Linked DNA regions of Homo sapiens. The protein of the gene in region 1 interacts with the protein of each later gene in a pairwise test. Each region holds a gene or a part of one and is shown in the gene's direction. Other genes may lie near its edges. The genes, in order: ZDHHC5 and GOLGA7B.

What was found.
Region 2: the proteins of ZDHHC5 (region 1) and GOLGA7B interact in binary tests that used the Homo sapiens proteins (3 or more experiments, as listed by UniProt).

The regions. Positions count from the first base shown.
Region 1 is NC_000011.10:57,669,255-57,681,279, forward strand, and holds part of ZDHHC5 (palmitoyltransferase ZDHHC5), read left to right. Parts: intron 1-2,766; 5' UTR 2,767-3,836; coding exon 3,837-3,940; intron 3,941-12,025. UniProt on the Homo sapiens protein: Palmitoyltransferase that catalyzes the addition of palmitate onto various protein substrates such as CTNND2, CD36, GSDMD, NLRP3, NOD1, NOD2, STAT3 and S1PR1 thus plays a role in various biological processes including cell adhesion, inflammation, fatty acid uptake, bacterial sensing or cardiac functions.
Region 2 is NC_000010.11:97,842,707-97,855,065, forward strand, and holds the start of GOLGA7B (golgin subfamily A member 7B), read left to right. Parts: upstream 1-7,136; 5' UTR 7,137-7,597; coding exon 7,598-7,609; intron 7,610-12,359.

The DNA.
Region 1 (12,025 bases):
TACTCTATTGTACTGTTACACCGCTTATTTCAACAAAAAATAGTTGTGTTGTCCTTGGTACTGCTGGTATCCACCTATTTAAGGAAATACCTGTATTAAACCTTATTAAAGCCTTCAAACCACATATCCTGTATTGTTTGTTTTACATATACATATTTCCATTTCATAGTTTACTCTGTGCCTCAATATGGCATACATATTACTTTTTTTCTCATTTTTGAGACGGAGTCTGGCTCTGTCGCCCAGGCTGGAGTGCAGTGGCTGCTATCTTGGCTCACTGCAACTTCCACCTCCCGGGTTCAAGCGATTCTCGTGTCTCAGCCTCCCTAGTAGCTGGGATTTCAGGCATGCCCCATCACGCCCTGCTCATTTGTTTGTATTTTTAGTAGAGACAGGGTTTTGGTATGTTGGCCAGGCTGGTCTCGAACTCCTGACCTCAAATGATCCGCCCGCCTCGGCCTCCCAAAGTGCTGGGATTACAGGCGTGAGCCCCCGTGCCCAGCTGGCATACATATTCTTGTATACTTTTTTGATACTAGTATGGATTCAAACTGTTGACTCTGATGAACCATACTCACCCTTGTGGTTTCATCCTAGTATCTGCAGCACATTCTTTTGCTAAGAATTGGTTCATCTTTATTTATACCCAATAAATTGTTAGGTTTTTGATTTCCCTTCTACTGTGTAGCCCCCAAGCATCTCAGATGCTGTTCTCTTTTGTGTTCCCAGTATTATACTCCCAAAATTGCATGGCCTTTCATGACTCTGTATTACTATGTCAATATTAGTCCATGTGACTTTTTTCCTGTGGAAAATATATGAAACAATATATAGTATCTAAATGATATTCTACTCTAGATAAAATTTAAGTAGTATAATTTTCCATCTTTTCTAGTCTTTGGGATTTTGAGGGAAAAGTTTGCTTTAATAGTACATATTGGCTGGGCAGAGTGTCTCACACCTGTAATCCCAGCACTTTGGGTGAGGAGGCAGATCACCTGGAGGTCAGGAGTTCGAGACCAGCCTGGGCAACATGGTGAAACCCCATCTCTACTAAAAATACAAAATTAGCTGGGTGTGGTGGTGCCCTCCTGTAATCCCAGCTGCTCGGGAGGCTGAGACAGGAGAATTGCTTGAATCCGGGACTCGGAGGTTGCAGTGAGCTGAGATCACACCATGCACTTCAGCCTGGGTGACAGAGGGAAACTGTGTTTCAAAAAAAAAAAAAAAGTACATATTGTCTACAAATCAAGAGTTTGCTTTTGTTAACAAAGTTACTGAGGCCTACATTCCAAATGTTAGGCTTCCATTCCTGTAGGAAACTGAGAGTTAAATAATCATTAAATCAGGGACTAGAGAGGATTTATGTTTTCTAGGACTATAACAGTTTCTTAGAATCTTTTGGCGCTCACTGTATTCTAATACTGCTGTTTGGCCCTCTGAAACCCTAATTTTAAAGAGAGAAATGAATCGTAAGGGAAGGCACCTTTGCCTTCCATGCCATAGGTGAGAGAGGAAGTGGTACATTATAGGGCACATTTATATTTTGTTATCTGAATCTTCTGATTTTTTTTTTTTTTTTTTTGAGACAGAGTCTTGCTCTGTTGCCCAGGCTGTAGTGCAGTGGCTCACTGCAACCTCCGCCTCCTGGGTTCAAGTGATTCTCCTGCCTCAGCCTCCTGAGTAGCTGGGACTACAGGCGCCCGCCCGGCTAATTTTTGTATTTTTAGTAGAGAAGGGAATAAAACTACTTTCTTTTAAAATTCTAACTTAAAATTTTTGGCTTGCAGATTCCAAGTTATCATCTCTGGGCAGGTAGTGGATGAAAAGGTAGAAAGGGTTTGTGTCACCAGAGGGGCATGTGACCTCTTGAGTTCTGAACCTGAGGTGATTCAGTGGAATGTCCTCGGGCATTCTGTAGCCTTCAATTTTAAAGAGTGGGATAAGGGACTGCGTCACCAGATAATGTGAGTAAAGTGCTTTTAGATCACCAGATGAAAAGCATTTTATAAAATCCCAAGGTGCTGGTGTTAGTTTGTTATTGTCATCAACAGAAATAATTGTTACTTTTAATCATATTGGGGCAGGTGGGGCTCAGTTACCTTAGGCCAATATAGGAATAATAAACTGTTGAATTGGGAAAAAAGAACCAACCCTATGCTATGCTTATTCAGTTTCTCATAGAGGGCATCATGGCTTTCTCTGCAAGAACATTTCTTACCCAGTGTTCTAATGGGTGATTCCAAAAGACCAAAAATTCAGCTTCTACCTCTTCAGGATTGTAACTAAAAAGCATAGAGGAGCAAAAGAAACACACAGAGAAAGAAAATGAGACTTGCTTTCCTAATTTTGAGGTTAATTTTTTTCTTTTTTCACTATAACAATAAACACTCTTCTTGTCCAAAGAGAAATCTTTGTTCTAGGACTGCCCTTCACTGCTGTGCCCTTGTTTGTGATTTTGATATTCTTGGTATTTGTTACTACCATCTATGTCAGGTGAGATGGGCCCCTTACAAGAGCTAGTCCTTTGATGTCCTTTGGCCAGGTGAAGCCATGTTCTGCTTCCAATCTGAACAGAGCAAAGGATTCTCAAGTCAGTTTTCCTCTGAATTCAGAGTCCCTTCTTACCCACATACATGTAAGTGAAATGGAAAACAGTCTTTCTTTCAGAAAGTACTTTTTAACAGCAGCCTGTGGAATTTTAGCCTTGGTGTCTAAGAAATACCCTGAAAGAATTCTCTGATAAAGATACTTGTTTTTCTCCAGGTGAGACACAGTAACCTGGTTGAACTCTGCATCTGGAAAGCTGAAGACTGAAGAAAGATAAGAGACATTGACTAGTCTGGAAACAGGGACATCTTTGGAACTTCGTTTTCATCCACAGTAAACTTTTGAAGTGTCATCAATTGGAATTGATTTCTTCATCTTATTCTGCCTATTGGGAAGAACATGGCTTCAAGGATTTTAAGTTTCCCTTTAGTTTTACATGAACTTTGTAGGAAACAGAGCCCTTAAAGGGCTTGGGAATAACAAGAAGAGATTGAAGACAGAGAAGCTTGCCCTGTTTTCCTTGCCCCTTCAAAGAAAAGGATTTACAGCTCAAACTTAGAACAGCTGTTGTCCAGCTTTAGCCATCAAGAGAGAAATAAATTAAACCACCATTGCCAGACTACAAGCCCTGGTGAAGTCAGGGTGTGGGAGTGGTGGCATTGAGAAGACTACCTAAAAGAGACAAAGACTGCAGTAAACAAAGCTCCTCTTTAAAGTTGGAAGGGGCCTCAGGTTCCTTCTTGGATTGAAATAGAAATAGAAACACAGGGCACACCTCTTTTAGGTGCAGCTCACATTTTATGGAACTGTAGTCGTGGAGGTACTATAGTATCTCAGAAGAATTTTTCTTTGCCCAAAGTTTTTTTGCCATACCCTGATATTCTCTCCTTCTTTTGAAGACCTGCCTCCATCCATGAGCTGTATCTTGATCTGTCTGACTGTCCATGTTTTCCACCTGCAACCATTTGCATGTGTACAGCCTACTGTTTGTCTCCAGTTTTTAAACTGTACAAGTTGTGTTTCTTAATCTTCCCTTCTGCCTTGTTCTGGGGAGGTGGTTATTCATCATTTGGAATCACCTTTCCCCCTCCCATGTGCTTTCCTTCATTTGAGATCTTTTGACCTTTGGCTTTATTTGGGAGGGGGAAGGGTGATAAAGTTTTCTGTTTCCCTGGTTTTCTTTTGTACTCCTCTCTGTTGCTTCCCTCCTCCCATTTTCTTGTCTGTTCTGCCGCTGTGTGGGCCTGGGCTATGCGGCAGGGCAGATTTCCCATCAGAGCTCCAACATGCCCGCAGAGTCTGGAAAGAGATTCAAACCCAGCAAGTATGTCCCGGTCTCTGCAGCCGCCATCTTCCTAGTGGGAGCTACGACACTCTTCTTTGCCTTTACGTGAGTTTTCTCCCAGCAGGGGTGTTTGGGTGGGTGGATACTCCATGGGAAGTGAGGAGATAACGCTTTCTCTTGAGTTTTGCAAAGCCAAGTGACTGAGAGGGCTCAGCGTCTGGTACAGGTAAATCCAAATCCCAGAGACATGTAAGAAAAATGAGAAAAAGCCTGTCCTTTCAGTCGTGTTATCAGTTTTACTTCGCTGAATCTTCTACCTACCCTTTCCTCCTTTATTTTGGAATCATAGATGTCTTCATATTTTTCTACCCAGCTCCATCATTAGATGATCCTAAGCTAGGAAGGAAGTGGGAGGAAACCACCAGAGAGGCTTAAAGCAGTTTAAGCAGTCAATTCTATGAGAAAGAGAACTAGACTAGACTAAAGGCTTTTTTTTGGAGGCAGCGTCTCTTGCTCTGTCACTCAGGCTGGAGTGCAATGTCGCGGTCTCGGCTCACTGCAACGTCCGCCTCCCAAGTTCAAGCGATTCTCCTGCCTCAGGCTCCTTAGTAGCTAGGATTAAAAGTGCCAACCACCACACCTGGCTAATTTTTTTTATTTTCAGTAGAGATGGGGTTTCACCATATTGGCCAGGCTGGTCTCAAACTCCTGAACTCAAGTGATCCATCCACCTTGGCCTCCCAAAGTGCTGGGATTACAGGTGTGAGCCACCATGCTGGGCCGACTAAAGCCTTTTTAAATGCTAATGGCTTTTTTCCAGGATGTCTGAAACTTAGGTTTGAGATTGTGGAAACTGAGAGTATTGGAAAATTTCAGAATTGATTTATAAGATACACCAATGAGAGAGTTTTGGCTTTTAGTGCTACCCAGATGGTTTTCTTTGTACTCTTAAGAACAGAAGCCTGGAGAAGTGAAGGCCACTGAGAAAGGAAAGGGTAAGTTGTATTTGGGAAGAGAGTCCTAAAAGAGTCCCTTTATGTTAGTTTCTGCCGAGGGAATGACAGTAATTTTCCCATTACTTGGTTCTGTTGGGAAAAGCAGTTGGTATGAAAAAATTTCCCATTTAGGATCTAGGATCTGCATCATTCTCACTTTGATCTTCAGACTTTCTTCATTTACTTGTTATTGGAAGAGACTGAGTGATTTAAACCTTCCCTTTTTCCTCAGTTTTTTTTTTTTTTTTATTAAGCTCTTGACCATCTGGAAGGCATCCTTGCTGTTACCTGTTTATAAATTAACATGTACCAGGCTTCTGAGCCTTATACTGTTGAGTCATTGATTTAGTGCTCTAGTTGCAGCTCTTGGAATCATCAGAGCATGCTGGATCTTCTGGGAAGTTACTTTGTCATGGTTCAGGCTCAAACCTAGTTGTGAAGTGTTATTCAGAGCAACATGAGGTTGCTGGAAAGAGGAAGAAGTGAATTGAAGTGGTAGGGAATAAAAACACTTGGGCTCATTGAAGTAGAGATTATTGGGGTGGAGGCAATTATACACAAGTTAAATCTGAGGTAGGAGGGAAGGAAAACTCCCCATATTTAGCTTTAGAAGCCAAAAGATATTCTGAAAAATGTGGGTCACATTGTCTAAAGAGTCAGCAAAGTAATACTGATGTATTTCTCTAGTTTTTAAAGAAGGAGAGAAAGAATCACTATCTAAGGCATGAACACCATCCTACTTCTCACCTCCTCTGAAGCAGAGAAGTTGTAGATTTTTTGGCCCCCAGCTCTGAGCTTGAGCATACCTGCTGGAGTCTCTCAAGGATCTAGAGACAGTGCTGCTTTTCTCTGACTTAATATTTTCTTCATAACCTTTTCCTCTTGCTTAAACTCAACATGTTCAGTGCTCTGTCCTTCTTCATACATTTACTACCAGAAAGAGGGGTGAGTCTTTGGTGTCAGAACTTGTTTTGGTTTTTGCTAATATGGCCAGGAAGTAGAATCAAAATTTTAACTAAGGGACATTTATATTATATCTTAGTATCCTGTAGCAATTTTGGTTCTGGGTCAAGAGGGGTATGTACAAGACCAGTTTGACACCCTTAACTCTGCTCAATTGGGGAGGGTCTATTTTCCTTTAAGAGGCAAAGCCTTTGGAGAAGGAAATTGAGGGGACTAAATGATTTCTGTCTTTCAAGCTCCCTCTTCTTGAGATAGAGCAAGCTGAATCCTTGTTTTTAATTTGCTAATCTGGAACCATTGAAGTGTTTGACTGGTTATACCAGTTTGCCTACAAAGAGTTGTCCTGACATAGGCATTTTCTCAACTGATAGTTGAAGCTGTTTAACCTACTTTCTCATTCCCTGGTGCCAGTAAAGTAGGAGCCCTCCTTATTCCATGGTCTCTTAGCTCTAGGAAAAAGGATTTTGGAGGACAATATTGACCTTATTTGGAATTATTGCCTCTCATCCAAAGTTAGAAGAACCCTAAGTCATAGCTGGAGTTCCTTCCCCCTGGCGCTAGTTTCCACAGGACCAATTTCTGGGCTCCATCTTTTCCTAAGCATCTCCCCTAGTCACCTTGTGGGGGCACAAACACACTGTTTATCTTACTCTAGCACCTAGCTCGGGTAATTCTGAAATTCTCATCTCCTCTTCTCCATCTGACTAGAGTATTTCCTCTGTAAGCATATATCTGGGCTGAGGCACCACTGTTCTTAAAAACTATCCTCTCATGTATTTTACCTCTTTCGAGGTTCAGTTCCCTGGAGAATCCCCTGTTTAAAACCATACAACCTAAAAAAGAGTTCAGGGTTTCAAATGGAGAGGCAAGAGGAAAACTCTCTGAACTAGCTCCTATGTGGGGCTGTAAATCTGTAACTACTCTATCATCCTCCTATTCTCTTCACTAGGCTACAACTAGCTACATTATTAGAAGCCCCAGGTGAGAATTACTTTGGGATATAGAGGAATGCGAGTAGGAGGGAGAGTCCCTTTCAGGTAACAGACATAATTAGTGGAGGCATGTAGACTTCAACTAGTTAGGAACAATTTACCTTCCATGTTTCTTTGTTAAGTTGGGGAAAGCTATGAGCAGAAATTACTAGTTGAGTTTGCATCAAAGAAATAGTGATCTGCCCCAGAGAATCTTGAACAGAACAGTTCAGGCCTTCCTCCTGGAACTCTAATCCCTCTCATTCCCTGAATTTGTCCAGCACTAAAACTAAGGAATGGTGGGGATCCTGTCTTAATTCTTCTCTGTTTTCACTATTTGGGAGGGAGAGTGTCTGCTGAAGTAACCTTCTACCTCCCAGTTAGTTACTAGACTTCATTTAGGATAACTACTTGGATGCTTATCTATCTTAGTTTAATCTTGTTTTTTGACTGGCAGAGGGGCAGTCCTAGGTAAGTGGGATAAGCCCTCTTTGGGGGAGGTCAGGAGATTGATTCTGGTGAAGTCTGTTAACCTTTGTGGACCTAAGTTCTTCCTGTTTACAGTGAGAACGTTGACCTACAGCAGTTTGTTTAAGCAACATGACCCTTTTTCAAATGAAATCTTATATACAAAAAAAAAAACCAACATAAAAATTAGGGCTGCTCTGGTTCAAGTGAGGCTGGCATATAGAGGCCCAGCCCCTTGGTATCGCCTCTTTACCGTGTAGGATCTCCTGAGACCTAGTGCTCCTGGTAACACCATTTCGAATCACTTTGAATTGTATCTTGTTTAAAGTCTCATCAAACTGTGAATTAGTCCAGTTAAGGTCTTATTTTATCCATTTCTAAAGCTGGTGGGAGGGGGCAGGATAAGATCTCTGCTTCACGTGATTTTTTTTTTTTTTTTTTTTTTTTTTTTTTGAGATGGAGTCTTACTCTGTCGCCCAGGCTGGAGTGCAGTGGCGCGATCTCGGCTCGCTGCAAGCTCTGCCTCCTGGGTTCATGCCATTCTCCTGCCTCAGCCTCCCGAGTAGCTGGGACTACAGGCACCCACCACTACACCCGGCTAATTTTTTGTATTTTTAGTAGAGAAGGGGTTTCACCGTGTTAGCCAGGATGGTCGTGATCTCCTGGCCTCGTGATCTGCCCGCCTCAGCCTCCCAAAGTGCTGGGATTACAGGCGTGAGCCACCACGCCCAGCCCCTATTTTATCCATTTCTAAAGCTGGTGGGGAGGGGGCAGGATAAGATCTCTGCTTCACGTGATTTTTTTTTTTTTTTTTTTTTGAGATGGAGTCTTACTCTGTTGCCCAGGCTGGAGTGTGGTGGTGTGATCTCGGCTCACTGCAACCTCTGCCTCCTGGGTTCAAGCGATTCTCCTGCCTCAACCTCCTGAGTAGCTGGAATTACAGGCGCCTGCCACTAAGCCCAGCTAATTTTTGTATTTTTAGTAGAGTTGGGGTTTCACCATAATGGCCAGGCTGGCCTCAAACTCCTGACTTCAGGTGATCCACCCACCTCGGCCTCTCAAAGTCCTGGGATTACAGTCGTGAGCCACCGCACCTGGCCACTTCACGTGATCTAAGGGAAGGATAAAGTCAGAGTTGTATGGAAATCCATGATGGTCTTTTCAGGCTCCCATCCATTATATAGTTTGCGGCTTTTCAGTTTCTGCCTCAGTCCTCTTCCAACCCTTTTACCCACAGGAAGTTGGCCGACCTCCATGGAGTTCTCTCTGGTCCCCCCTCCCCCGTAACTGCAGAGGTATTAGCACCTGATTTGAGTGGGAGCAGCCTTGTGATTTAGCACATTAATGGAGCAGTGGTTGTGCCTTTTCCTTCTCACATTGTTTTCTTATCCAGGAATAAGTGCCCAGGTCCTACGTCTCACATTCAGCTGGTTGAAAGTCTGGGTACCACAAATCAGGTGTTTTCAGAGAAACTGGGTTGCCCACCTGTAAAGGGAGAAATTGTTTTCTCATGGAATCTTGAGGAAAGGATTTCTAAATGAGGATCCCCATGGGCAGGAAGTGGAACATTCATTTCAGCCTTCTCTCATCAACAAGGAACACTAGTCATATGCTCAAGCAATATGCTAGGCATGGGCAGAATGCATAGACCTATTCTTTAGGAGCTTAGTGTCTCTGTTTTAAGTGTCCTTGAATTCCTAGTATTTCAGATAGGGGAAGGTAGAGGTGGAATAATTGATGATGATGATAATGATGGTGATAGTTAATAATGTTTTCTTTTGTCTTCTGTCCACTGAATGCTCAGTATCAAGCCAGCTAGTTTAAAAAGAATTCTAGCACTTTGGGAGGCTGAGACAGGCAGATCAGGAGGTCAGGAGATCGAGACCATCCTGGCTAACACGGTGAAACCCGTTCTCTACTAAAAATACAAAAAAATTAGCCAGGCGTGGTGGTGGGCGCCTGTAGTCCCAGCTACTCGGGAGGCTGAGGCAGGAAAATGGTGTGAACCCGGGAGGCGGAGCTTGCAGTGAGCCGAGATCGCGTCACTGCACTCCAGCCTGGGTGACAGAGCAAAACTCTGTCTCAAAAAAAAAAAAAAAAAAAATTCTAGCGGCTGGGAGCAGTGGCTCACACCTGTAATCCTAGTACTTTGGGAGGCTGAGGCGGGAGGATCGCTGAGCCCAGGAGTTCGAGACCAGCCTGGCCAACATAGTGAGACCTGTCTCTACAAAAAATAAGCAAAGTCAGCTGGTCATGGTGGCATGCACCTGTAGTCCCAGCTACTTGGGAGGGTAAGGCTGAAGGGTTGCTTGAATCTGGGAGGCAATTTTAGTGAGCCAAGCATGGGTGACAGAGCGAGACCCTGTCTCAAAAAAAATGAATTCTAATAACTTTTGAATGAAGATCTTTCTCCTTCATTCTCATGTTTGTACTATGTAGCTGAAGTAACAAGGTTGGAGAGTTTCATGTGGATTACCTAAGGCCTTGCATAGAGAAGTATTAATTGAGGCAGGATTAAAATCCAAAGATTCTTGACTCCTACTTTGTGTTTCTTTCTAAGAACTTAACCATTTTTTTGTAACAGGATGCATTAGGGAGTGCTCTGAAACAGGGTTTCAGGAGTGTGGATATTGGAATCCATTCTCCCAATTTTATTTATTTTTATTTTTTATTTTATTTTGTATATATATTTTGAGACGGAGTTTGGCTTTTACGCCCAGGCTGTCGTGAAGTGGCGCGATCTTGGCTCACTGCAACCTCTGCCCCCCGGGTTCAAGTGATTCTCTTGCCTCAGCCTCCCGAGTAGCTGGGATTACTGGTGCCCACCACCACGCCCGGATAATTTTTGTATTTTTAGTAGAGACAGAGTTTCACCATGTTGGCCAGGCTGGTCTCGAACTCCTGACCTCAGGTGATCCACTTACCTTGGTGTCCCAGAGTGCTAGGGTTACAGGCGTGAGCCACCATACCTGGCCCCACTCTGCCAATTTTATTTGGTCTTGAAAACAGGAGTGCTGAATGGATGGGCAGAAGAACCCGTTCTACCTGAGATGGTATAGGTCTGGTAGTCCTGTCAATGAGTCAGCCAGCCTTCTGGGCTGTGACCACTCCCTAGGCTTTTAGAGCTTTATGATTATTGCCATAGTCTAAGGACGAGCCCCAACATCTCCTGTTCTGAGCTCTGGCCTCATCTTCCATCAAAGGCAACAGATTCAGACAGGCCACTTGGGGTGGTCACCTAGGAATCTGGCAAAGTACCATAGCAACGGAAAGCCTCTCCTTAAATCAAGCAGAATTTGGGATATGGCAAGAACGGGCTCTGCTCACACATGCCTCTCCTTGGTGGGGTGTTCCCTTATAGTGCTGATTGGAAGCAATGGTTCTGTGAATCTAGGAGCAAATATTGTCCATGAAGTTGTTATTTGCATCATTTCTAGATTCTGGCACTGTGGGGGCAGACTTTATTTTGGCAACAGATACTGGAATTCCATTCCAGGATTACACACTTTATCTGGACCAAGTTGATATCCAGAAGGTTGTAGGGTAAAGTTCATCATCCAGGGATAGGTTGGCAGGATCCCCAAGAAACTGAGTTGCTTTGCCTAAAAATGAAACTGGCTGGGCATGGTGGCTCATGTCTGTAATCCCAGCACTTTGGGAGGCTGAGGCGGGCAAATCGCTTTGAGCTCAAGAGTTGAGTCCAGCCTGGGCAACATGGTGAAACCCTGTCTCTACAAAAAATTAGCCGGGCGTGGTGGTGTGCATCTGTAGTCCCAGCTACCCAGGAGGCTGGGGTGGGAGGATCACTGGAGCTCAGGAGTTTGAGGCTGCAGTGAGCTGTGATCTTGCCACTACACTCCAGCCTGGGCAAGAGAGCGAGACCCTGTCTCAAAAAACAAAACTGAAGAAAGAGTCGAGTCAGAAAGATTGACATGGGCCTGCAGGAGGTTTCATATCTTGTTCTTACTCTCATTAGTTTCTCTCAGAGATGGAAACTAAGGTGAATATTTCTTTCAGAAGCTCAAGAGGCCACAGTGGCCAGTTGTAGGAATGAGACTTTTAAATCATGGGCACCTCAGTGTTCTAAGGATTTAATTTCTTTTTCCCTTCTAATTATCTTCCCAGGCTGTAGGAGTCAAGTGAGTCACCCTTTCTCTTCTTCCCCAGGCGGAAATTGAAGTGACAACTTAGTACTAGGGAGGGGCTCTGACCTGGATGACTGGTTTTCAGTTTCTCTCCCTCCTTCTTAAGGAACCTAGGAGGTCAGGCTTTGGGGTGAGGCGGTGCAGGAACTCTTCTTTTTGCTTATATTCCACTCCAAACCCTGCCAATGTATGGAGACATCTTTTCTGAACCAAAGAACTCACAGAGGAAGAAGCTTCCATGGGGGGCTTTCTTTGAGGATAGTATAGAACTATGACTGAAGGTCTGTTTAGTCCCTAAAATTGATGCCCTTGCTCCAGCTTCGTTATTTTGTCTGCTAATTGTGTACTGACATATCAAGAGAACCAAACAGCTAATGGATATTTACTATCTAAAAAGCCTGGCATATAATAAATACTAAAAACTTTTCAAAATGAATGGCTGAATGGAATTTGAATAAATAGATGGTGGTGGTAAAGATTTGTGAGATGCTTTGTGACAGTTTTGTCTCTTATCTTGATTTGCTTGTATCTCGTTAAGGAACTGAGTTCCTCCAAACTGCTCTGAGTCAGTCTCAGGGCTGTGCTTTTTGTTTTGGTGGGTGCAGATACCTTTTCTTCACAGAATCCCAGACTGCTGTGGTTTAATTC
Region 2 (12,359 bases), on another chromosome or scaffold:
TTGAGACTTGCTAATGATTACATAGTAAATAGGAGAGCCAGAGGTTGAAACCTATGTCATCTGACTCCAGGGATGCCGTTTCCTACCACATACTTCCTAGTAGTCTCCGCAATGTGCCATGAGATGACATTGTTTAAGGCTTTCCAGACCACAATTTCCCCCTCAAGCATTCATGCAATTGTTTTCCATCCAGACCCAAGTGCTGAGAATTTCCTCGTCTCCCCTGCTTTTTCTTCATCTCCCTGAGGTTTGCTAGCTCTTTCCCTGGCTTCTCTGCCGTCTGCAAGAGTTCGTTTTTCTCTCATCTCTTTCCAGCTATTATGATTTCCAAATCTTTCAGTTGGTTTCTTTTTCCGGCTGTGGTCCTTTATGGGGAGGCTTTCCAATGCAGCCGCAGATTGGAGGATGATAACACTGAATGTTAGTGGATCTTCTTTGATGTTATTTTGTGGGTGAACTCATTAATTTATGATAAAAAACATCAAAGAGCTAGGCTCTTGCATAGGACTAGGTTGTCCCAAGGCAGCTGGATAATAATGATTAGTCAGATTAAATCTCAAAGAGCTCTCTGCCTCAAATATAGGAGTTAAAGTCCAGATGACTGCATTTGGGAACATCCCATCCTCTAGCATCTCATCACAGCCTTGAGTCAGCCCAACATGGAATGCTGCCCACTCTGAATGTGGGTCTCTCTCTGTGGCTTCCACTTTGAGGCCTCTAAGACTTGAGGTCTGTTGAGATTGTTACAACCCTGGAGGCAATGTAGGGGAAATAGGGTGAGGCTGTGAAAGCCTCTTTCCCACCAGAGGAGCTAGATATTAAAAGGGATCATTTGTCCTTGCATGAGTGATCTCAAAGCTCTCTATAGACTCTAGTCCTGTGACGTCAATGGGGAGAACTCTCTCTGGGCTAAGTGCCAGCTCCATGCTTGGCACGGAGCAAGCTTTCTATAGGTACTGGCTGAATGATGGACCAAGCTTTCTAGAGGTAATGGTTGAATGATGTGTGAAAAGCCGTTGGCTAGTTGAAGGGGAGCAGGAGTGGAGCTCAGGTTTTTCTTTATGTGACAAAACCTCCTAACCAGCTCCCATCTGTGGCCATTTACTGTGTTTTTTTTTATTGTTATACTTTAAGTTTTAGGGTACATGTGCACAATGTGCAGGTTAGTGACATATGTATACATGTGACATGCTGGTGCGCTGTACCCACTAACTCGTCATCTAGCATTAGGTATATCTCCCAATGCTATCCCTCCCCCCTCCCCCCACCCCACAACAATCCCCAGAGTGTGATGTTCCCCTTCCTGTGTTCATGTGTTCTCATTGTTCAATTCCCACCTATGAGTGAGAATATGCGGTGTTTGGTTTTTTGTTCTTGTGATAGTTTACTGAGAATGATAATTTCCAATTTCATCCATGTCCCTACAAAGGACATGAACTCATCATTTTTTATGGCTGCATAGTATTCCATGGTGTATATGTGCCACATTTTCTTAATCCAGTCCACTGTGTTTCTTTCGCCTCTGTGGGAAATTGTCTGTGCTCCTCTCCTGAGCCATCCCCTCTCTGTTTGCCCTGTGTCCCATTCTCTGCTGGCCTGTTAAGGGCTTGCTCCTGCAATTAACCCTCTCTTTTCTGAATCATCAGTGTTTCCCTCTCTACTAGATGATTCCTGTCAGCAGACAAACATGCCCTAATGTCTTCCCTCTTGAAAGGAAACTCCCTTGCTTCCATGTCTCTCTCAGACCCCCATGCTAGTCTTTGCTTCCCTTTGCAGGAGAAAGAATTGTCTACACTCTCAGTACCTCTCCTCTCTCTCCTCCATGCTAACTCTCAAACCCACTTTAATCAGGATCTTATCCCTGCACCACTAAAATGGCTCTTGTCAAGGTCACTGGCGAACCTTCTTGCTGCCAAGTCCAGTAGTCATTCCTCAGTCCTCATCTTATTCCACCTGTGAGCAGCATTCAACATGGCAGGCAAGGCTCTCTTTCCAGCCTTCTTTGCTTGGCTCCAGGACACCGCCCTCTCTTGAATCTCCTCCTACTTCACTGGCCCCTCTTCTCAGTCTTTTGTCTTCCAGCCTGTCAGTGACCAAGTGTCCTGAATCAGTTCTTGGACAGCTTTTCTAGCTATGCCTACTCGCTCGATGATGTCTCTAGTCCCATGGTTTTAAATGCTATCCACATACTGAAGGGTCCTGAAGTTATATCTCCAACTCCTCATCCTCCCTTATAATTTGCTTATAACATGCACATCAAACTTCAAACCTAAGTGAACAAAACACAACCAAAATGCTGTGTTCTCTATCCCTTCAGGCCTGCTCAGTCCCTAGTCTTCCCCTCTCAGTAGATGGCCACTCCTTTCTTCTGATGGCTCAGATCTCAAGACTTAGACTCATCTTTGACGATCTCTTATTTATTTATTTATTTTGAGACAGAGTCTTTCTCTGTCCAGGCTGGAGTGTAGTGGCACAATCTCGGCTCACTGCAACCTCCACGTCCTGGGTTCAAGTGATTCTCCTCCCTCAGTCTCCTGAGTAGCTGGGTCTACAGGTGTGTGCCACCATGCCTGGCTAATTTTTGTATTTTTAGTAGAGTCAGGGTTTTGCCATGTTGGTCAGGCTGGTCTTGAACACCTGATCTCATCTCAAGTGATCCACCTGCCTTGGCCTCCCGAAGTGCTGGGATTACAGACATGAGCCACCATGCCCGGCCTGCCTTCTTTATACCACACATCCAATCCATCAGAAGATCCTCTCAGCATTACTTTCAAATTATATCTAGAATCTAGCCACTTTTTCCCACCTCTACTGCTACTACCAAATTCTAAGCCACCACCACATCTTCTAAGCCTGGGCTGCTCTAACAGTCTCCTAATTGGTTTTGCAGCTTCTAGCCTTGCCTCCCCTCTGACATCCAGTGGAATCTTTCAAAAACTGCAATTAGATGATGTCACACCCCTACGCTAAACCTTCTTAGGCTTGCCATCTTACTTTATGAGTAGAATCTGAAGTCTTTATCAGGGCCTACAAAACCCTGGAAGACCTGATTCCTGCTACCTCTCTGAGCTCAACTCCCAACTCTCTTCCCCTTGTTCACCTCAGGTCTAGCTACACTGGTCTTCCAGCTATTCTTTGTTTTTATTATTATTATTTTTGGGGACGGAGTCTCACACTGTCACCCAGGATGGAGTGCAGTGGTGTAATCTCGGCTCACTGCAACCTCCGCCTACCAGGTTCAAGTGATTTTCCAGCTTCACCCTCCCAAGTAGCTGGGATTACAGGCAGCCACCACCATACCTGGCTAATTTTTGTATTTTTAGTAGAGATGGGCTTTTGCCATGTTGGCCAGTCTGTTCTTGAACTCCTGTCCTCAAGTGATCCACCTGCCTTGGACTCCCAAAGTGCTGGGATATAGGTGTGAGCCACTGCGCCCAGCCTCCTGCTATTCTTTGAACATACCAAGCCCAGTCCTGCGTCAGGGCCCTTGGATTCTGTCCTCTCTGCCTTGTCACTCTTCCTCCAGGTATCTATATGTCTAGTTCTCTCTCTTCCTTCAGGGCTCTACCCAAATTTCACCTTATCAAAAAAAGTATTCCCTGACTATTCTTTCGAAAATAAGCCCTCTCTATCACTATCTCCTTACCATATCTTCTTCCTAGCAGTGATCACACTTTTCTTCCTAGCAGTGATCAAAACTTGACATATTTTACACATATTTGCTTATGTCATGGATTGTTACCCCCATTACTATATAAGTTCAATAAGGACAGAGGCTTTGCATTTTTAGTCACGACTGTATCCCAATTTCCTAGAAGAGTGCCTGATACACAGTAGGTGTTCAACAAATAGATGTTGATGAATGGATTTGTTGAATGGCCTCATCCAGATATCTAGTCATCAGGTGAAGAGAATGGTTTCCAGAAGGTTGTCTAATTGATGTGATAAAAATCAAGTGGGAGGAACTGTGAAATTTACATGGAGATCATCAGATTATGTGTTCTTTTATTACCAGTGACCACTGCAGGATTCATAGATATTCTGTTTGGTCCTTTATGCCAAATCCTATGCCAAACTATAAGGTAGAATGAGACACCCGCCTTTAACTTCTTTAGCATGTCACTTACACTCTGGGACTCAGCGTTTTCATCTGCAAAATAGGCAGCTGGAGATGTGGTCATTGCTCTGCTAGTCTATGGTCTACCAGATGCTGGAGGGAGGCAATACAGTTAGGAGGATCAACCACACAGGCTCTGGAGCTTGACTGCCCATGTCTGAATCCTGTCTCCATTCCCCACAAACCCTATGACCTTGGGCAACTTACTCAGTTCCCTCATTTATAAAGTGGGAATAATAAAAAGATCACAAGAACACAACTCAAAGAGTAATTGTGAGGATTACGTAAGATCATACATGTAAAGTGTGTAGCATATGGGCTGGCACATGGTAAGTGCTCACTAAATGTTAGCTACTAAAAATGAAAAGTTCTGGGAAAATTTTTGAGGGGTCATCGCTATTAATGTGTTTTAGGGGTGACAAACTGTTCTAGAATATTAGATAATATGGGCATTTTAAAAGCATGATAATTGGCTGGGTGCGGTGGCTCATGCCTGTAATCCTGGCATTTTGGGAGACTGAGGTGGGCGGATCACCTGAGCTCAGGAGTTTGAGACCAGCCTGGCCAACATGGTGAAACCCTGTCTCTACTTAAAATACAAAAATTAGCTGGGTATGGTGGTGCGTGCCTGTAATCCCAGCTACTTGGGAGGCTGAAAATCACTTGAACCCAGGAGGCAGAGGTTGTAGTGAGCTGAGATGGTGCCACTGCATTCCAGCCTGGGTGATAGAGCAAGACCCTATCTCAATAAAATAAAATAAAATAAAGCATGAGAATGGTGTTGTGCCTAGTTGGGATAACGCTTTTCTTCTTGGGAGATGCATGGTGAATTGAAGTACTTACAGATAAAATCTCATTGAAGTACTTACAGATAAAACCTCACGATGTCTGTCACCTTATTATTATTATTATTATTATTATTTTTGAGACGGAGTCTCGCTCTGTCACCCAGGCTGGAGTGCAGTGGCGCAATCTCGGCTCACTGCAAGCTCTGCCTCCTGGGTTCATGCCATTCTCCTGCCTCAGCCTCCCCAGTAGCTGGGGAGTAGCTCCCCAGGTGCCCACCACCACGCCCGGCTAATTTTTCTGTATTTTTTAGTGGAGACGGGGTTTCACCGTATTAGCCAGGATGGTCTCAATCTCCTGACCTCATGATCCGCCCACCTCGGCCTCCCAAAGTACTGGGATTACAGGCGTGAGCCACCGCGCCCGGCCACGATATCTGTCACCTTCTGATAATCTAGGCAAATATAGCTCTGTTTTCATATCTATCAATAAAGCAAATGTGGCAAAAAGCAATTGTTGGAGCTAGGTAGATGGCATAGTTTATTGTACTATTCTTTCAACATTTTGGTATGTTTAAAAATGTCAAAATAAAAGGTTGGAGAAAAAACAAAAGGTCCTAGAAACAGTCTAGTGAAATCCAACACTCACATTTTACAGAAAGAGAACCATAAGCTCAGAAAACAAGACAGTTGCTCGAGGTTATACAGCTGGAAAAGCCTGGGCCAGGTCTCTTGGCCGCCAGGTTCTCCCTGTGTGTGGGCTTCAGACTCTCAGGCAGCAGTGAGCTGCAGAGGAGCACACCCCACCACCCCTCAAAGAGACCAAGGGGTATTATGGGTATGTAAAAAGGCACTTGTGTTGGTGTTTCCTTTTTTTTATGTCTATTTTATTTATTTATTTATTTATTTATTTTTTGAGACAGAGTTTCGCTCTTGTCGCCCAGGCTGGAGTGCAATGGTGTGATCTCAGTTCACTGTAACCTTTGCCTCCCGGGTTCAAGCAATTCTCCTGCTTCAGCCTCCTGAGTACCTGGGACTACAGGCGGGTGCCACCATGCCTGGCTAATTTTTTTTTGTATTTTTGGTGGAGATGGGGTTTCAGCATGTTGGCCAGGCTGGTCTTGAACTTCTGCCCTCAGGTGATCCACCCGTCTCGGCCTCCCAAAGTGCTGGGATTACAGGTATGAGCCACTGCTTCCGGCCTTATTTTTATTTTTTTAAGAGACAGGCTCTTGCTCTATTGCCCAGGCTGGAGTACAGTGGCACAATCATGGCTAGCTGCAGCCTTGAACTCTTGGATTCAAGTGATTCTCCTGCCTTAGCCTTCTGAGTAGCTGGGACCACAGGCACACATCACAACGCCCGGCTAATGTTTTCATTTTTTGTGCAGACAGGGTCTTGCCCAGGCTGGTCTTGAACTCCTGGGCTCAAGCAATCCTCCCACCTCAGCCTCCCAAAGTGTTGGGATTACAGGTGTGAGCCACTGCACCTGGTCTCCTTTTTATTAAACAAATAGATCATTTAGTTGGAATTTATGATGTCAAAAGTGCGAAGGTGGCACCAGAGCCAGACCTGCCATCCTTGGAGAGTGAGCATACCGGTTTGGCACCATCTGCTTGTGGTTTTTGAGTGGTGGTGGTAGTGGTGGTGCGTGTATGTAAACTCGGGTTGCAGAGGAGAGAGGGAAGAGTAAAGGGTGGGGACCAGGTCCAGGAAGAGCAGCAAGGAGAGACTGGCTTCAATTCTGGAGCTGCCTGAAAGAAGGGACCCCAGGCTATGGCTGAGAACGAAATGTGGGCACGTATTTAAAGAAAGGAAATGATTCTCTGCGGTCGGCAGGATCTTTGTCTAGCTAGTGGGGTTCCAGGAAGTGCAAAGGAGAGGGGAAAAGAGGGGCCGTCCGTGCAAGCCTGACTGTGTGTATATGGGGGGGGGGCACACAGAGAGGAAAAGGGAGAGAAAGAAAAGAAATTATTCTAAAGAGGAAGCTGGGGGCGGGGCGAGGGAGGGGTAGAGCCGGGGCACTGGGGGTGGCTGGAAAGGTAGAGAGGCCTCACCTGCGGGCCTGCGAGCGGCTCGGGAGCGGTCAGCCTTGCAGGCTGAAGCGTCTTGCCCCGGAAAAATTCCTGCCCCACTGTCCTTCAGGCTGGATGTCCCGGGGGCCACGGAAGCGAGCGCAGAGCTCCGGGGCTCTCACGAGGGGGAGGGCAGGAAGGGGAGGCGGGGCCTCGCGCGGGGCGGTAGCCGAGCCTGTGGCCCGGGCGGGGCTCCTCTCCGGCGGCGCCGGAGTCTGGGGGCCGCGGCTTCCCCCTCCCGGCCAGCGGCGGCTCCTGGCCCCTCCTCCCCCGGCCGCCCCCATCCCCGCCGCCGCCGCCGCCAAAGCTAAACCCGGCCGTTGCCTGCAGGAGCCGCGGCAGCGGGCGATCGGGCCGTGAGGAGCCTCGGGCGCGGCCTCGCCTCCCGGGCCCGGCGCCTGCCTCAGCACAGCGGACAGCGCCGCGCCCCTTGCCTGGACCCAGCCGCCCGCCCGCCCCCGGCCCACCTGAGCCCGGGCCCGCGGCGCCCGCATCAGCACTGCGGACAGCGCCCCGGGCCCCAGCTCGCCGCCACCGCCGCCGCCCACCTGCTCCCGGGGTCAGCACCGCGGAGACCCCCCTCGCCCGGCCCCGCGACAGCCTCCGAGCGCCCCCGGATCATGGCCACCGAGGTAGGGGCGAGCGCCCCACCCGCAGGCAGTGCCCGATTGCCGCGGGACCAAATGCCCTAGGGGTGGGCTGGGCAGGAGTGGGAGGCGGGAGTTGGGGGTGGGATGGGGTGATTCCCCAGGTCAGGTCTGGAGGGAGGAGGTAGGGGCTTAGTGAGGGCTCATCTCCCCCTTGCGTGTCAATCTTCCCCTCGCCCCACCTGAGCCCCCAAGCTGTCCGCGACACTTGTTGGCATTAGCGCCAGGGTTGCTTCAGGGCCCCAGGCTGGGGTTTCCCCTTCCCTGGACTTCACAAGTCCTGAAACCGCTTTCCTAGAGGGTTGGAGACGCGTGTGTGTGCGTGTGTGAGGGGAGGGAAGGCGGCTGTCCGCTGTTGCTATGCAGTCAGCTTCTGAACCCAAAAGCTTGGCTAAGGGATGACAGACTTACCTCTACATCCGCATTTCCTTTGCGGGAGGGAGGGGACAAAGACATCCTCAGGCTGAGAACCCAAATGGTTGGTCTCCACTTTTGCATATCACCCTTCTTGCTTTTTTACCCCATTCGAGTTTTTTTTTTTTTTTTGTCCCAGGGTGTCCAGATTTCCCCTCCATCTGATGGGAGTTTCTGCCTTCTTCAAGGTGCACTGATAGGTGTGTCACCTTCAAGCACTTGAAGGCTGAACCACGGGGCCTGTTAGCTAAGGGCAGAATCTTGGTATAATGCTTGAGGTCGAGGATTCCCCCCTCTACCCCTAGGGATTGCCCTTTCCCCCCTCATTTCAGGAGGGAGATTGGGCTCTTTATGTTCCCACTTTATACATGATAAAGGTGATGTGTGGAAAACGAAAGGACTAATTTGCTACTCCACACAGCATGTCAGCAGCAGAGCGGAAAGTTTTTGCCTTTGAATTTTTGGAGCGAAACTCAGGACATCAGGGTCTCCCCAGTTCTGATGTTGACTTCCTTTGTGGTGTCTCCCCATTTCCAATCCAGCTGGCATACACTGGGGGAGAGCAGAGGCCTGTGAATGATTCAATGCAGTGCTTCTGGGCATCCTGGTGAGCAGTGTGACATTAATACCAAGTGTGGCTGTTGTTATTCCACTCAAGTTTCCACCACAGAACAAGGTGCTGTTGCTTGGCATTGCTTGGCATTCTGACAAGGCACAAGGTTAGCTAGGCGGAGAGTTGCCCCTCAGGACTTGGTGTGAGGGCAAGCCCTGGGCAGACCCTGGGAGCTTGGTTTCTAGAGTAGAGGAATGCAGAGTACTCACAAAGCACCAAAGACATGGAGGACAGCAGGAAGAACAAAGGGAGAAACCAAGGAGTTGGTTACCTTCCAGATAGGGCTGCCAGACTGCAGCAGAGGCTGCTGTGTTGGACAGAAAAGGGGAACTTCAGCTACATGGGCATGGCTGGGCCAGCAGCGTGGGCAGAGAAGGCAGCTGCCTCTGCGATGTGATCTGACAGATTCCAACAGGCCCATCTGTCCCAGGATGTCTGCCATGGCCCACAGATTCCAACCAGCAGGCTTCTATCTCTATGTCAAGACAGCGTTTCCAGGAGGCTGCTATGAGACATGTGTGACTCTCCCCTGGGAGGGGCTCTGCTCATAACGCCTCTGAAAATATTGCGCTTTCCTGTGTACAAAGCACTATCGCATAAGTGATCTCTTTCAAGCCTCAGAGCAGCCCTATGAAGTGGGTAAGGATGGTGTTATTATGCCCAATTAACAGATGAGACAACTAAGGTTCAGAAACTTGCCTGGTCCCTGTGAAGGAGCCAAAGAAGGCATCATTATCCCATTTTACAGATGATGGAACTGAAGTGCTGAGACTTATTCAGGAAAATATGGCTAAAAGGTGGCAGGGATGGGATAAGAACTTGAGTCTTCTGCCTCTTTGGCCAGTGCTTTTTTTTCCTGCATCCAATTAGCCTATTGTGTCACCTGATAGAGAGGAGGGCCCTCCAGGTCTTGATGTGAAGCTTTGGTGGAGAGAGGGATGCAAAGGAAGTCATGAAGGGCTGGAGTGTGGGGACTCAGGCCCCCTGCTTGGCCTGGCTGGGTTGGTTTGAGGGCAGAGGGACAGAGGAAAGTCCCGGAGTGATGGGGAGCTGAGGACAAACATTCCTCACTTCACAATTTGGCCTTGGGTGGACTCTGATGGCAGAACTGAGGCAGGAAGCCTTAGCTCTGCCAGGGCACAGGACCTGCACGTATTCTGGGTTGTGGGGTGAGTCATTCTCCCAAGGCTGTTTTTACTGTTAGAATTGAGTTGAGATTACCAGGATAAACTTGTTGGGAGAGGGAAAACATCGCTTTAAGTTCCCATGATTATTCTGTTAGGATTCTCAATAGGAACTCCTCAGCTCTAGGAGAAGCTGTATTGAGAGAAGGAGAGAGGGAGAGGAAGGGGGTGGGGAGAGGGACAGAGAGGGAGGGGTGAGGGAGAGGGAAGAAATTCATGGGTGGAAACTGGGTCTTTTCTGTTCCCTAATTTCTGTTTAGGAGTTAGCATTAGGGGAGAGGTGTCTGTAAGGAACTCAGAGGAGGGATGGAGCCTCCTGAGTGATACACTGACCTCATTTGGAGAGCTGCAATGAGCCCATTTTCTGAGCAGCAAACCTCTGTGAATGTGTGTCACTGGGAGCAGGGTCTGCCCTGGGAAATAGTCCAGATGGCCAAGGACAACTGGGAAGTGCCTGGCTGGGAGGGGCTTCTCCAAGTGGTGGGGTTTGGTCTCTAAGAGATTTTTAAATGCATCCAAGTAGCGTTATTCAAGCAGGGTGTTTGGAGGTTTGATCTTTGAGGCATGGAATTAATGATGAGTAGACAACTGGGTCAGGCTTGAGCACTGGTACAGGCTGAGAAGAAGGGAGGTCTTGTGGCTGGTGTTTTATCCTTAGGCCTGACCTGGCTGTCTGTGACTCATGATCCTCACTCCTCCTTCACACCCCAGCCAGGAAGCAGAGTGCTGGCATCAGCGGAACCTCCTAATTCTCGATGCCTCACATGCATCCTATGGAATGAGATGGTTTTTAATGAGGATGAAGATGGCGCCAGGGGGGCACTCCTGTTGGACTTGGGCAGACTGGACCAGGAGCTCATTTGCACTCTAGAGCTTGTTCCTCTGCACCCCAGCTAGTTGACTGTCAGGTGAACAGGAGCCAAATGTGTGACCTGTGGTACCCACTCTCCAGGCAGACTCCCCCTCCTTCTCATACTGCAGTTTGAAAATTGGTACCCATGGGTCTCACCACTGATTTTCTTCCTTATGAAATGCTTCTCGGCCCTGTCTTCACTCTGCTGCCAGTGAGCCAGGGGTGGCAATGGGAGAGAGGGGCAGGGTTGAGGAAGGTGAGAAGTGGAGAGAGGCTCAGGTCTCTGGGTCAGTTAAGAACCCCCTGGGAGACACCCAGGGGAAACACAGAAACTGCAGCTTCAGAGAGAGTTGTGCACATATTTTGATATCCTCTGGTAGGATTTCAGAGCATCACGGATCTCTGCTGAAAACCCCACCAGCTTTCTGAAAACTTAGTAGCTGGCCAGTGGCCTGGAGCCTGGCTTAGCTCTTGCCCAAGGGGCCCCAGCCATGGGATTCTTTATTTAGAGGTCTTAAACTAGCAGCTCTAGAAATGAGTCTGGTCCATGGGTGTGCCTTACTTAGTCTGTTGAGTGCTTATACATTTTAAAAATGTATTGGAAATATTCAAAAATCAGAATATTTGATGTTAAAAAGATCTAGATTTCTGGCTTCTTTTGAGACACCAGAAGTGCTGGCAACCTGGGTATACATTCCCACGTGGCAATAGTCATCTGTCTCCTTGAGATGGGGCACCAGTTTTCTAATTAGCCCCAGGCCCCACCTGGCCCACTTATTGCTCAGCCCCTGTAAACATTTGCATTCATAATCCCTGATAAAGCCTCTAGAATGTCAGAGATGAAAGGGGCTTGAGCAATGATGTAGTTCCAGTTTCTTAGTTTCCAGTTGAAGAAATGGAGGTGCAGAGAAGGGAAGACTTTCCCAGGGCCATGTGGCCCAGGGTCAGGTCTCCTGCCCCCAGGTCAGTGGGCCATCTTTCCACTAGGGCTTCCTGGCACTTCACACTCAAGCCACCATGAATGGAGAAAACCAGGAGACCCTGCCTTGCCTTAAATCCGGCTCTTCACCAACTTCAGATGAGTCTGTAATATATGTACTCTATGTAGGTCTGGGAGACTAAGGCTCTGCCATATAAAATGTGTCTGATATCATCCTTTAGCAACTCCTCAGAGTTGCTCCTCCACAAACACTCTCCAGGGAGAGAAGCAGATCTCTGGTCACCCAGAGCCTGGATAGTAGTCTAAGGCTCAGGATATTGTTGGTGCTGAAAAGGGTGTTGACTTATCCTACTCTGGCTACTTGAGAACCTGTGGATCAAAGCCAAGAGGAAATGGGAATTTATTATGTAAGGTAGCACCCCCAAATCTTAATGTATTAATAGCTTAATACAATAGAAGTTTGTATCCTGCTCAGTGAAGTTCCAGGTAAGTGTTCCTGATCAACAGGTATTCCAGGCGGTGATTCAAGGCAGTGATTCAGTGATTCAGGGACCAAGGCTCTTCCCAACTTGTGGTGTCACTATCTTCAACACAGGGCTCCACCAGCCTCCATGAAAGGGGAAAGAGCAGGGAGAAATGGTACATCTTTATGAATCAAGCCTACACATGGCATTCGTCACTTCCTCTCACATTCTACTCAGTCATAGGGACACACCTAACTGCAAGGGAGG